Linked DNA regions of Homo sapiens: region 1 is linked to region 2. Evidence: fine-mapped expression QTL. A gene starts in region 2. The other region holds a variant in brackets. All regions are shown on one strand. Distances are from middle to middle. Region 1 overlaps PDGFD (platelet derived growth factor D). Region 2 holds the start of LINC02552 (long intergenic non-protein coding RNA 2552).

The links. PIP is the estimated chance that this variant, and not a neighbour inherited with it, causes the effect.
Region 1: its variant is the best candidate, but not a certain one, in a credible set for the expression of LINC02552 in substantia nigra (GTEx, PIP 0.56).

Annotation. Positions count from the first base shown.
Region 1 is chr11:104,014,479-104,017,407 of GRCh38, forward strand. All of the region lies in intron 1 of PDGFD (platelet derived growth factor D), which reads right to left. Among named protein-coding and RNA genes, the nearest start is that of DDI1, 21 kb to the right of the region's middle. The variant G/A (reference allele first, on the strand shown) is at 1,402.
Region 2 is chr11:104,607,698-104,610,626 of GRCh38, forward strand. LINC02552 (long intergenic non-protein coding RNA 2552) reads right to left here and starts at 1,605. Exons shown (of 4, transcript NR_120585.1): 1 at 1,540-1,605.

The sequences.
Region 1 (2,929 bases), 590 kb before region 2:
GAGTGAGATCCTCTCTCCAAACAGACAAACAAACAAACAAACAAAAGATAAACATGCTTTCTTGTGGGACCTCCTACGGTAATCTAGAATCTTTTTTTCAGATGAGTTAGAAGTAGCCTTTAATAAAGAATAATACATACTAGCATTTAATACATCCTGAGAAAGATGGGATTGTGTGTGCCTACATTGCTAAAAGCAACCAATTTGTGAAGCCAAATAGGCATCTTCGAGGTCTACTGTGGTTTATGCTACAAAATTGGTGAGCTTTATGGAAAAAATGACTAACAATATACTGGCATCTGTCTGGCTTCCCTGGGAGCCCATATATTAATAATAATCAAATAGTCTCTCACATGATCAGCAGAAAAGAAATTTGAAGTTATATTCTGGGACAAGACCCAAAGTAATTCCTCACTCTATCAGCATTTATTGAGATTTTACAGAGTGCCTGTTGGGAATTAGGAGCTGCATTTAGATGGTGAATAAATTCATGCTTTCATCCTAAGTATGATCCCACTAGGCAGAATGGTCAAGTTCTCAATTCCTCTGTTGCTGTTATTTTTGCAAAGGAAAAGATAGAACTTACTATTCCCGTCATTTGAAGGCTTCAAAGATATTGCTGGTGAATCGCTTCCTCCAAACTCTTAATGTGCTACTTAAAAAAATTAATTCATAAACCAAGAATACTTGCTTTTAAATCTTACTAGATTTTATTCTGAAGCACACTCAATAAAAATCTAAGTTTCAAATTTAGCTAGAGTTAGTAATCTTCTGTGAGATTGCTACAAATGACATGCTATGAGAAGCCAGCAATTGAAACAAGATTCTCTTTTCTTCTTAGATTGACAGGGTACTGCTTGAAAAAGAAATGCAGATTTTGTTTATTCTCAAGGGGTCTCAGGTGTGAACGAAGCTACATTTTAAATTAATCTGAGAAAAAAGACCAATTTTAGAGGCAAGAAGAACTACAGGTCATCTTTCTTGGTATTTCAGAAGAAAAAAGAAAAATAAACACAGCATTACCTTTGCATCTGGAATACAAAAAATGATTTTAAAGCAAATGTGCACATAGGAAAATCATCTATTTAACTTTATCCTTAAAGAAAACAGTACATTCAAAAGCATGATTTTCTAGCCTACATATGTCTTTACATTAGATCTAGTAACTATGTACTGAATGAAATGGGTTTTAATAAGTTGAAAACTGAATAAATTAAAAAGCACTAGAGTATTAGTATGCACTGAACTCCAGAATGGCATATTTCACAAAGTTACAATATCATGTGAGAGTTTTGCATGGTTGTCCAATTTAGCCATTCACCCATTTTCCATTTCTATTTTCATTTTTGGTTAAAAACAGAGACACAGACAGTCCCTTCATGCATATAAAGAGCTCACGTG[G/A]AAACAACATTGAATGACAGCTGGTTTTTACTATCAATTTCATGTTTGTGCTACAGAGTCCAAAACCCCAACAGAAACACATTCTCACAATTAATAAATTTTAAATAGTAGTAAGCTCTCAAAATCTACTTGTTGAATGAATCCCTCTGAAATTTTACACATAGGCAGAGGTCTTTTTATTTGCACAGTATCACATGCTTAATGAATCTGCTGGTCTTATAAAAGCTAATTTTGGCTGCAAATTTTACAGATGACCAAACTAAAATTGACTGAGACAATAAGGAAAAGGTGTCATCTCTCACAGGAAGTCAGGAGGTAGATACTTTCAGGTTTGATTAATTCATGGCTTTGCATGGTAGTCATGGGTTTTTCCACCTTTCTGTTCTGCCATCCTGAATGTGTTGGCTGCTCTCCTTAAAATGTGACAGCAGTTTCAGCTATCTCTCCCTCGCAGGGTTGGATTCAAGGCCAAAGAAAAGGCCTTTCTTGACATATTTCTAAATATCTTTTTAAGAAAGCGGAGCCTTTCTCAAATCCCCAAGCAAGCTTTCCCTCTGTCTCACTGGGCAGAATCTGGGCATATTCTCAGGCCTATGCCAGTCATGGCAAGGGGAACAGACTTACCAAGACTGGCTTGGACCCACACAAAGTTCTCCCCGAGCTGAGGCCCATGTCCACCCATCAGGGTAAAAGTAAGAAATAAGGGGCAAGAGAGAAGTTGGAGTGGCAAACAATGAGCAGTAATTAGCAACTACTGGGTATGTCTGTGTTTATATCAAGCTTTAAAAGGCCCTTGAAATATGCATTCAACCGATATTTCCTGAGTGTACGAATGCTACTTTAACACGGAAAGGGCACCATGGCCACTGTTCGAATGAAAACATTAATACTACACGGTTGTTGCTCTGAACAAGGTGGTTATAATCTGTTTGGTGTAAAGGTGGGATTGGCAGAAAAATCTTTTTTTCCACAATTTGCCATGTAGCACTATTTAAGAAATGTTGGTCACCTTGAAGCAGGTTTTGGGAAGAAATCTCTGACTTTTTCAGCCATGAAATATTTCTCTGCTATAGTCTGAATGTTTGTGTCCCCTCCAAATTCACATGTTGAAATTCTAACCCTCGAGGTGATGGTATTAGGAGGTGAGGCCTTTTGGGAGTGATTAGATCACAAGGCAGAGCCCTCATGAATGAGATTACGGATTTATAAAACAGGCTCCAGAGAGATTCCTAAACTGTCTACCATGTGAGGACATAGAGAGAAGGTGCCATCTATACATCAGGTAACAGGCTTTACCAGACACCCAATGTGCTGGTGTCCTGATTTTGAACTTCCCAGCCTGTAGAAATGTGAGAAATAAATTTCTGTTGCTTAAGCCACCTGGTGTGCGGTATTTTATTATGGCAGCTTGAGCGGACTAAGGTACCCTCTTTACTTAGATCTATTAACATTCCTTGGGTGTTTTTCCGTTTTTTTTGTTTTTTTTTAAATTATCCAGTATATGCAAACAAACACCAGGACATCAGAT
Region 2 (2,929 bases):
GTTTGGTAGTTCAGTTTAACTCAGGTAAGCTTTCTAAATGTCTAGCATCTTGTCCAAGCTCATAACAAAGATGTTCAAATGCCTTGGCACCCTCCTATTATTATTCCTTCCTGCTCTCCTCATAACCTTTTATTTTCTCATTTTTCATTTAACCATTCCTGGACCTCACTCTCATCTTGCAATATCTAATAAGCCTTTACTAAGGACTGAACATGTGAGGGCCAGATTTGTGAACTGGACTTTTCTCTCTGTAGATTTTTCAATTAGGTTTTCACAATGCCCTAGTTTCACTGAGTCAGTAAAACTCCCAGATGTTTCCATTCTTTATGTATCTCTCCTTGTATCCCTCATCTCTGTCATAATTTTAGAGACCCTCTTGACATTTAAAAAATTTGGAAACAACAGTTTCTTATTTCTGCCTAAGAAGACTTAAGATATTTCTGTAAAGATTTGGTTGGACACATATAGACATTTATTCCAAATTAAATCAGTGGTCTTCTTCAGATTGAGTTCCAAGCTGTAAACTTCAAAGGATAAGTTCTGCTTTACTAACTGTAATGCCAAACCAATTATTTTATAAAAACAATTAAATTGTCATGAACATAAGATTTCATATCCTGAAAGAATAGGAATAAGTTCTATTTTCACAATTAGTTTTCTATGTATAGTCCTCAACCACAATGCCTGTGAACCACCATCCTGGGAAATAAACTTTTCTTGAGATCTCAAAGCAAATGAAGACAAGTAACCAGCATGGCACAAATGCTTCTCTGCTACTACGTGGATTCTTTTATAGACACTGATTATATATTAAGATATTAATTTTATCCATTTACACTCATCAAAAAAGAAATATATGGTCCACATACTTAAATTCAACTTCTTTCTTAGAGGCAATGGACTAAGTACAATCACAAGCAATAGACAAACATCATAACTTTAATTTTTGGCTGTAAAAATGGAATAAAAACAGTAATTGTATTCATCATCGCTTGATGAAGTCTTTAAAATGTTACTTTTATTCTAGGAAGAATGTAGGCAACCTCTAAAGGGTTGATGTGGCAAGAAAGACACTGATATTTTTTCTGGGAAAAAAATACCTTGGCTCTGAACGAAAAAGAATATTGCTGAAATTATAGTTAGGAGCCTAGTTCTCCTATTGTTAGAGCTCTTTTAGGACATTTTATGATATTTTCTACAAGCACAGGACTGTGGCTATTTAGCTTGGTTTCTATTATGCCTTTCTTGGCATCATGTAGGATAACTAGCACATCTTATAGGACACCAGTGAAAGACAAAATAGACAACACAAAAATCGTATGGCATTCCTCAAACTGTTTTATGTGAAAAAGAAAGGCTGTCTTATACTATTCAAATCCCTAGACGAATATGTCAAAATAAGAGTACGAGAGGAAGGGGTTATTTCAAGGATATCCCACATATAGACAACATGGTGCATTGTGACATCGTTATATAAATATTAATAGTGCCAGAATACTAATCCCTTCATCGGGGAGGAAATATTCTAAATTCACTTACCTCTTGCAGCACTTTCCTACATAGTACTGTAGACACAGCCCATTGGCATCCTAGAGATGGCATTCTGAAGAGAAAGCAGGATCTCAACTCCTCTCAAGGTGTTCCTCCCTCCCTTGAAGGTCAGGATGTCTTGTGCTGGCACATCCTTTGGTGGGTCAGTAGATGGCAGTGTGTCTGAATCTAGTATGTATGGTAGGGGAAAGCTTTTTAGCATTTCCCAAGAAAATGAAGGTTTTGAAAGCTGTGAGGCAGCATGGGGCCTAGTGCATGGGCCAGAAGACTTGATCTTTATTTCTGGCTCAACTCCTGAATACATTTACTTGAGTAAATGGACACCAGCCACTTAACTTTTGTGTTCTTTGCTTTCTTGAACTTGAAATTAGACAAAATACTCTGCCTCTTCCCATCTCCCTCACAAGGACCCTGTGAGTTTAATCAGACTTCAGATTAGTTTCCGTTCTTTGAAGAAAAGACTCCTTATGAATTTGCTATGCTATTTATAATGTCAGTGGCAAAATTGATCTGGGTTGTTCTTCTGGGACTTGAAGTAAATAAACACAGAGGCATTTGGCAAGAAGGATCTTCTGTATTTCTGTGCCATAAAATGTTGGTGTATTTTGGTTTTAAGTAGCAGCACTGGATCTCAGGATGCAAAATTATTCTTGTTACTTGGAATTAAAATAACTTCCTCCATTCCATGGAACTTGACAATTACGGAAGGAAGCCAATAGGCCTCTGGCACCTTCCCAATTTAAATTTAAACTGTTCACTGCAAGTACAGATTCAATCAGATACAATCATTTTCACTTTTCCCTGCTATTAAACATAAGAATTTTCACTTCAGCATTTTACTACAAAGGTGGCACTCTGATAAATGTTAAATGAAATGGTAAGTAGGAAATACCATTGAAGGGTTGAAAGATGATTCTTTTTCCCAACAAGATCCAGCTGTGCATGAATTCACTGGAAGTTAGAATAGTTAGAATCCTCAACCAAAACATACCTTCAGCTGCATGGCACCAAAATGGGTCATGACAAGATCATGTTGGGGCAAAACAAACTTTAACATCTCACCTGTCAACCTGGCTCTGGTCACGATCAAAGCTAAGCTTCTTTGAAGAAGCCTTGCTACTTTGAGGCTGGTAACAAGGATCAAAAAGGGATACAATAAATAATACTATTTCTGGACAGGTAGATTCTGATAGGGAGGTCTAGCGTATTTCTAATACAGATGCCTACCTCATCTGGTCTTCTTGGAAACAAAAAATTATATTGTGTAGGATAGCCAGAAATCTACCTGCTATATAAAAAGATAAAATTGTAAAATGAAATGGATGTCATGTTTGAACACATGCCATACCATCATTTTTAGGTAGCAGCCTTTCAGGAT